Homo sapiens: one gene and its partner. The protein of the gene in region 1 purifies or fractionates together with the protein of each later gene. This does not show direct contact. Each region holds a gene or a part of one and is shown on either strand. Other genes may lie near its edges. The genes, in order: ADD3 and ASAP1.

Region 1 (3,820 bases):
GACTTGAAAACAGCAGGACCACAATCTCAGTTGCTTGCTGGAATTGTTGTGGATAAGCCACCTTCTGTAAGTTTATGAAGTAGTATGATCTTTGTTTTTTATTTACCACATTAATTTCATTGATTTTTAAATATGAATATTTATTTTTACTAAGGTTAATATAAGCACAAGTTAAAAAGTCAACTCACAAGATTTAAAATGTCACCCACAATTCCCAGTTTCCAGGTGCAGCAACTTTCTGTTCTTTTCATTGCTTCTAATGTTTACTTTGGTGTTTCTGGTTAGTTAGTTGAGATGAGGTCTCACTCTGTTGCCCAGGATAGTCGTGAACACCTGATCTCAGGTGATCCTCCAGCCTTGACCTCCTGAAGTATTGGGATTACAGGTATAAACCACTGCTCCTCGTCCTCCTTTGATGTTTCTAAAGAGCATCTTCTGCTTTTTCTTGGTCTATCAGTTTTAGACCTTGACTATTTTTCATCAAATCTGTGTTATCCGTTATAAGAAGTACCATTGTTTTATATGTCACTAAAAGAGAAAAAACACTGCCAATTATAATTGTTCCCAATTTCAGAGATGGAAAAAGTTCATCTTAGAATTAATGAAATATTTTTGAAAGATGGGGATTTAGCCTGTTTATACAGTGCTTCCCTTTTTCCCTCTCCCCATTCTCCCAGTAAGGATACATCACAGTTTTTGTTTTTTGTTTTTTGTTTTTTTCTGTTAGATCAGCTTTCGTTATTTATATTACTACATGTTTGCTGCTAAGCCAGGTAGTATTTCCTTTCTTACATAAGTCACCCCTCCCTACTCTCACCTTGCCTTTTTTTCATTGGCTTATTATTTGGGGTACATTGGCTTAGTTCTTCCCGAACTTTTTAAAAGAATTATAAAGTCCCGGCTGGGTGCAGTGGCTCACGCCTGTAATCCCAGCACTTTGGGAGGCCGAGGCGGGCAGATCACGAGGTCAAGAGATCAAGACCATCCTGGCCAACATGGTGAAACCCCATCTCTACTGAAAATACAAAAATTAGCTGTGCGTGGTGGCGTGCACCTGTAGTCCCAGCTACTCAGGAGGCTGAGGCAGGAGAATCACTCGAACCCGGGAGGCAGAGGTTGCAGTGAGCCAAGATCATGCCACTGTACTCCAGCCTGGTGACAGAGCGAGACTCCGTCTCAAAAAATAAGAATAACATAAAATCTGTCCTAATATTATTTTCCACAGGGTGAAAGTCAACAGGTAATCTCTCTGTTCCAGCCCCCCTTCATTCTGATCCAAATCTAAATTGGTTGCTCTCAGGCCAGCTGCACAGGTTCATCTGGAGGATTCCTGTGCTGCTGATCTATATTGTATTCCGTTTCCTGTATCTTGTGTCTTCTGCTTTCTTGATTTCCTCCTTTACTGTAGAACGCACCCTCTAATAGCTTTCCGAGAAAAGGATACATAGGTGGTAACAGTCTGAAATGCCTTTATTCTATCTTCAAATGTGCATATAATGGATATAGAATAGTTTAGAAATAATTTTCCCCTGAAATAAGAAAAGCATCATTCTGTTCCCTATTTTATTGTTGAAGTAGGAAGGCATTGGAATTCCTGAACCTTTGTTTAGGATTTTTTTTTTTTTTTTTTTTTTGCTTTTAGACCCTTTCTGCATCCCTGCTGTTCTGAAATTTTATGATTGTGTGCTGATCTCTTTTTAGTCTTTTTTCTAAGTAATTAGTAACCCTTTTCAATCTCCAGAGTCATATCCTTCAGTTCTGGAAGTTTTTTAAAAGTGTTTCTTCAAGAGTGTTTTCTTCCCATTTCTTTTTCTGTCAGTATATTATGTTAGTTTGGATGTTGGGCCTCTTTGAGCCTCTGATTTTTTTCTTTTCTCTCCTACTTGCCATCTCTTTATCTTTGTATCCTACTTTCTGGGAGAATGTTTTCTAACCCTTTTAATTTTTTATTTTGATGTTAACTTTTTTAATTTATTTTATTTTATTTATTTTTTTTGAGATGGAGTCTCGCACTGTTGCCCAGGCTAGAGTGCAGTGGCGCGATCTTGGCTCACTGCAAGCTCCGCCTTCCTGGGTGCACGCCATTCTCTGCCTCAGCCTCCCAAGTAGCTGGGACTACAGGCGCCTGTCACCGTGCCCGACTAATTTTTTTTGTATTTTTAGTAGAGACAGGGTTTCACCGCGTTAGCCAGGATGGTTTCAATCTCCTGACCTCGTGATCTGCCCGCCTTGGCCTCCCAAAGTGCTGGGATTACAGGCGTGAGCCACCACGCCCAGCCAACTTTTTTATTTTTAATAAGAGTTCTTATTCCCTGAATGTTCCTTTTTAATAACATCCTGATCTTTACACTTTCTCTTATTGCTCTAAGGGTATCAATTTTAAATTTTCTTCATTTGCCTTTGTTGTCTTTGTCTATTCTGAGTTGTTCCGTATGTCTGTTTATATGGAAGAATGAGACATTAAAGCATATCAGAAGCTCTGGGTATACACAGAGCTCGGGGATTGGTGGGCTTCACTGTAGGGTGATTGGATGTGGACCAGGTTGTTTCTCTGGGGAATCCCCAAACATTATTCTCTGTAATTCTTTTATCTGGGACTATTTAGTTTATCTGGAAAAGAACTCCAGTCTCCTGCCAGTTTCCAACCATCATTCTAGGAGCCTGCAACTGTATTTTGTGTCCCCTAGTTAGTTTTTCTTTCTTTCTTTCTTTCTTTTTTTTTTTTTTTTGAGACGGAGTTTTGTTCTTGTTGCCCAGGCTGGAGCGCAATGGCGTGACCTCAGCTCACGGCAACCTCCGCCTCCCGGGTTCAAGCCATTCTCCTGCCTCAGCCTCCTGAGTAGCTGGGATTACAGGCATGCACCACCATGCCCGGCTAATTTTGTATTTTTAGTAGAGGCAGGGTTTCTCCATGTTGGTCAGGCTAGTCTCGAACTCTGGACCTCAGGTGATCTGCTCGCCTTGGCCTTCCAAAGTGCTGGGATTACAGGTGTGAGCCACCGCGCCCAGCCTAGTTTTTCTTTCTCAAGCCTCTGATCTTCTGCAGAGATGAGAGAGAGGGAAATGCTTGGCTCTGTGGAATAGGGAAGGGAACCTGGGAATCTGTTTCCTATTCAGACTTTGAACATGTTCCTCTATTTTCACCTTTTCCTTACCACCACCTTCTATGGTACCTATTGCCTCTAGTTTATGGGCCTTACCAGACCTCTTCAGGGCAAATAAGCATGCTTCTCATTTGCATCCTTTTTTTCAGGACTGAGGCTTCAACTTTCTCAGCTCTGCTACCTGCTGTTCCACTTGCATTCCAGCTTCCAAAAATATGTTAACATTTCTCATCCTTTGTTGTTTCATCTCACATTCTTTTGTCCTTAAGGGTGTTTTGTTTTGTTTTTTTCTATTCCTTTACTATCATTTTAGTGGGGTTTTGGGAGGGATGAAAAATAAATACATGGGTTCCATATGCCAACTGCAACTGAAATTCTCATTATTTCCTTTCCTGGAGAAAACAGCTACAAGCTTATTTTCGTAACAGATTTAAAGAACTACTTTTGGTACAGTTTCATTTCTGTAAGCCTTTTTTACAGTGGTCTTTAAAATGGAGCAATTCTTGTTTTTTTCAAGTTTTTTTTATGTGAAACTTATTAGAACTTGGCATAATGGTTTTTAAAAATTATTAAGATTTACTTATACAGGCTTATTGAGGAAATATCACTGGCAATTTTAGTCCATTGGATTAGTAGTTTAAGGGCATCAATCTTACAAGAGCATTTTAAACAAAGCATGTTACCTTGCATTTCTTAGGATTGTTGTGAAATAAGGC
Region 2 (3,820 bases), on another chromosome or scaffold:
GCCCACAGCCCAGGTAGGATGCATACAGACCATTAAGCTGTGTCAGCTGCCTGGCAAGACCCACTGCGGGGTACCATACTCAAATCAAAGCTAATCTTGTTCTGTCTCTTCTCTTTGTGAGTAAAGTGTTGTTCTAGCCAGTAAAAAAAAAAAAAAAAGGCTGCTATGTACTATCACTTGTTTTCTGGTTACCGTGGAGGAAGAATACTGTGAAAGTTTGAGACTGATGGTGGCGAATGGCAATTTTATTGTCTGCTGCATTGGCCTGTAAGCCAGTTACCTGTAAAAATTTTCTAATTACCTCAATTAGATTAGTATTGATTGCACTAAAGAGAATCATGTAATGGGCCTTCAATAGAAAAAACAAAATCGTGCATATTGGCTTCCAATGCCAAATCGATAGAGAGGAAGGTGGTTTTAAGAGTGGAACAGAGTCAACCAGGCCTGCCCAGCTCTCCTGAAGGCTTGCCCACCCACCGCGTGTGGTCTTAGTTGGCATCATGCATGTGTGAGGTCTTTGTGAATTTCACATCACAGTTAGCATGTGTGTGTGGCACCATCTTTACATCTGGCGAGGCACGTAATGGTGGCACACACAATGTCCCCTAGGAATGATGCTAGGGACACCAATGACAGCTTCCCATTCCCCGCAGGTATCTCTGCTGTAGTCATCAGTTGCTTAGCAAAGAACATGATCACTGCTTGATTATAATAATATTAACAGATTACAAAGTGAGTTCCTCAACATCCTTGTGAGAAACGATTAATCATGTCCTATTTTTCAGAGGAAAGTGAGGCTTACAGAAGGGACATGCTTTATCCAAGGCCCATAGAGCTAGTAACTGATTCACGTGGGGGGGCTTCAGAGCCCACCTCCTCGTCATGAGATGAAGTGGACTCTCTGACAGGCTTCATGCCAGGGGCTGGCCCCACTCTGCTGACAGAGGCTGGAGGTACCCCTGGGCCTCCCCAGGCTGATCCCTTCAGTCCAGTTTCTCAACCATGGTGCTACTGGCATCCTTGCTTGTGGGGGCTCCCTGAGTACTGGAGGATGTTTAGTGGCATCCCTGGCCACTAAACTTCCATCTACTAGTTGTTGGTAGCAACCCCCTTCCTAGGTCCTGACAATCAATATTTCCAGATATTGTAAATGTCCCTGGAGGGCAAAATTGCCCCAGTTGAGTCCAAACAAAATCCCTACAGCTGTGATTAAGAATCTGAGGTCACTGTCTAGGCCTGAAGGAAGAAAAGTCAAAGGTGAATGTGTGCCCATGCCTATGTGTGTGTGCACACATGTATATACATATGTATTTCTGGGTATTCTTAGGTACTGCTGGCTCAACTGCGAGCCTCAGGTCCCTTCCTGGCAGACAGAACTGAGTCCCTCTTGGCAGGACGGGGCTCAGGCTGCCAAGGAAGGGGAATTTTCACCCTGATGTCAGGAAATGATCAACAAGGAGAGCAGAAGAGGTGGCTTATTCACTGTACCTTGGCCTGGCAGTTCCCATCGGGAGACTTACTCCCTGGCAACGTGAAAACCAATAGATGTGTGGACTGCCCTCGCAGGTCACTCACAGCCTGGGTACCTAGCAGGGCCTATGAGGATGCTGATGTCTTTCCCTCCTGATGCCTGAGCTGCAGGTTTTAATGTAAAAGGAGTTTTCATAGATATTTTCATTTAATCTTTTCCTAAAATTACGTGGAGAAGGTGTCTTGGCCTATTTGACAAAGAAAGAACTGCAGACTGGATTAAGAATTGAGTCTGAGGACTTGTCAACTGCTCAGCCTGAGCAGGAACTTGGGCATTCTGATTCCCAGCCTGGGGACAGTGTGGAATGGTGAGCAAAGCACATAGGCTCTGGGGTCAGGGCCGATCTGGAATCTTGACTTAGCCTGCTTACTGGCTGAGGGACCACAGGCAACATGCTCAACTTTCTTCCGCTTTAGTATTTATATGAAAAATCAGAAAATGCCTACAACTCACAAGGTTACATGATACCATGGGTAAAGTACATACAAATGTTAATTCTCTTGACCTGTCTTCAAAGCCCCATGGCTGTTTTTCTTTTTTTTCAGATGGAGTCTCGCTCTGTTGCCCAGGCTGGAGTGTAGTGGTGTGATCTCATCTCACTGCAACCTGTGCCTCCCGGGTTCAAGCGATTCTCCTGCCTTGGCCTCCCGAGTAGCTGGGACTACAGGTGCGTGCCACCATGCCCAGTTAATTTTTTGTATTTTTAGTAGACACGGGGTTTCACCATGCTGGCCAGGCTGGTCTCGAACTCCCGACCTCGAGATCCATCCGCCTCAGCCTCCCAAAGTGCTGGGATTACAGGCGTGAGCCACTGTGCCCGGCCAGCTCCACGGCTGTTTTTCTAGCATGTAATAGTGTGTGACATAGAAAAGACACCAAATGCAATGGCTGTTGGGTGAGTGATGCAGCTGACAGGGTCCTTGTGCTCAAGAGCCCTCTTTTACTGCACTGTCTGTAGGCTCCAATGTGGTGCCTGCCCAGGCATGCTGTATGAATGTACGGATGAAGTGGATGGATATTCGTACGTACCCACCACTCCTGGTCCTCTTCCCCTGTGACGATAATCACTTCTCCCTCGATGAATGTGAGCTCGTCATCGTTGTCTGCCTGGCAGTCATAAATGGTCTTCACTCGCCTCACTTTATTTTTCCCCTTAAAGAAAGAAACTGGGTTTTAATTGAAAGAATGGACTGAATGGAAAAAAAGAGCAGCGGTTCTTTGTAAAATGGTTGACCTTGGCCAGTAACTTAACCTCGCTGAGCCTTGATTTCCTCACCCTTGAAGGGCGGGAAGAAGAGTGTCTGTCAGGCACCCAGCATACTGTGTACTCTTAACTACAGGCCCTTCCTCTCCCCCCATCATCAGGGTGGCCCTGCATTGGTGATTGGGCATCATCAAGTTATTTTCACCAGAAAGCAAACACTATGGGTAGGGATCAAAATTGAGCTTCACCAAAAACCATCAAGCACTCTGTACGCACCCCCAACCCACATCAGCTTGCAGAATGACAGCAGAGTCTAAAAATGTTTTTAGGAAACATGATGTAAAGCAAAATCTGCAGCTTCTGCATAATGAATGTGCAGCATAAACAAATTTGTCAGTCCCCTCATGCAAAACAGCAAGTCAGTACATGCTGGTTAAACACAGCAGGATCGGCCTGGGGCTCGGAGAAGTCTATGCAGTTCCTAAAACAGTTTTAATTTTTGATTAGTTTTGATTTGAGCATTTATTTGTTGAACTTCCAGTTCTTTGCAAATAGAAAAGTGAAAATAGAGGTATCACCTTCTAAATGATGGGTTTTTGTTTTGCACCTGGCTAATTGGCAATTTTAAAAAAAGCAAGCTGTCTCTTTAAATGTTTTGGGTGGAGTGCCTCTTCCTCTCTGTCCCCTGGTTTCTCCTTTAATCACCCTGATAGTTCCAGCTGCTTTCCGAGCTCCCTTCTGGGCCGTGCGGGTGGGTTGGAGAAGCCTGGCAGAACTGTGGCAGTGACTGCGTGAGCAACTGAGAGGCCTGTAGTGTGTTAATTTATAACACAGAGATTAAATGACATAATAAAACTATATAGTGTGTAGCATGAAATGAAAATTTTGCATCAGTGGTGCTTGGGAGTCATGGGAGAGTTCCCTTTTGAATAGCAGAAGTATCCACCATCAGACACGGCAGCCTCCAACCTACAGGAAGATGGGTTTTATTTTTCTTAATTTAAGTATTGATATGACACACTTTTACTGCAACATTTAAATTTTTTTTTTTTTTGAGACGGGGTTTCACTCTGTTGCCCAGGCTA

The links.
Region 2: the proteins of ADD3 (region 1) and ASAP1 fractionate together in Homo sapiens (co-fractionation; one large-scale study listed by BioGRID). This does not show direct contact.

What each region holds. Positions count from the first base shown.
Region 1 is NC_000010.11:110,126,438-110,130,257, forward strand, and holds part of ADD3 (gamma-adducin), read left to right. Parts: coding exon 1-66; intron 67-3,820. UniProt on the Homo sapiens protein: Membrane-cytoskeleton-associated protein that promotes the assembly of the spectrin-actin network. Plays a role in actin filament capping. Binds to calmodulin.
Region 2 is NC_000008.11:130,055,394-130,059,213, forward strand, and holds part of ASAP1 (arf-GAP with SH3 domain, ANK repeat and PH domain-containing protein 1), read right to left. Parts: intron 2,684-3,820; coding exon 2,561-2,683; intron 1-2,560. UniProt on the Homo sapiens protein: Possesses phosphatidylinositol 4,5-bisphosphate-dependent GTPase-activating protein activity for ARF1 (ADP ribosylation factor 1) and ARF5 and a lesser activity towards ARF6.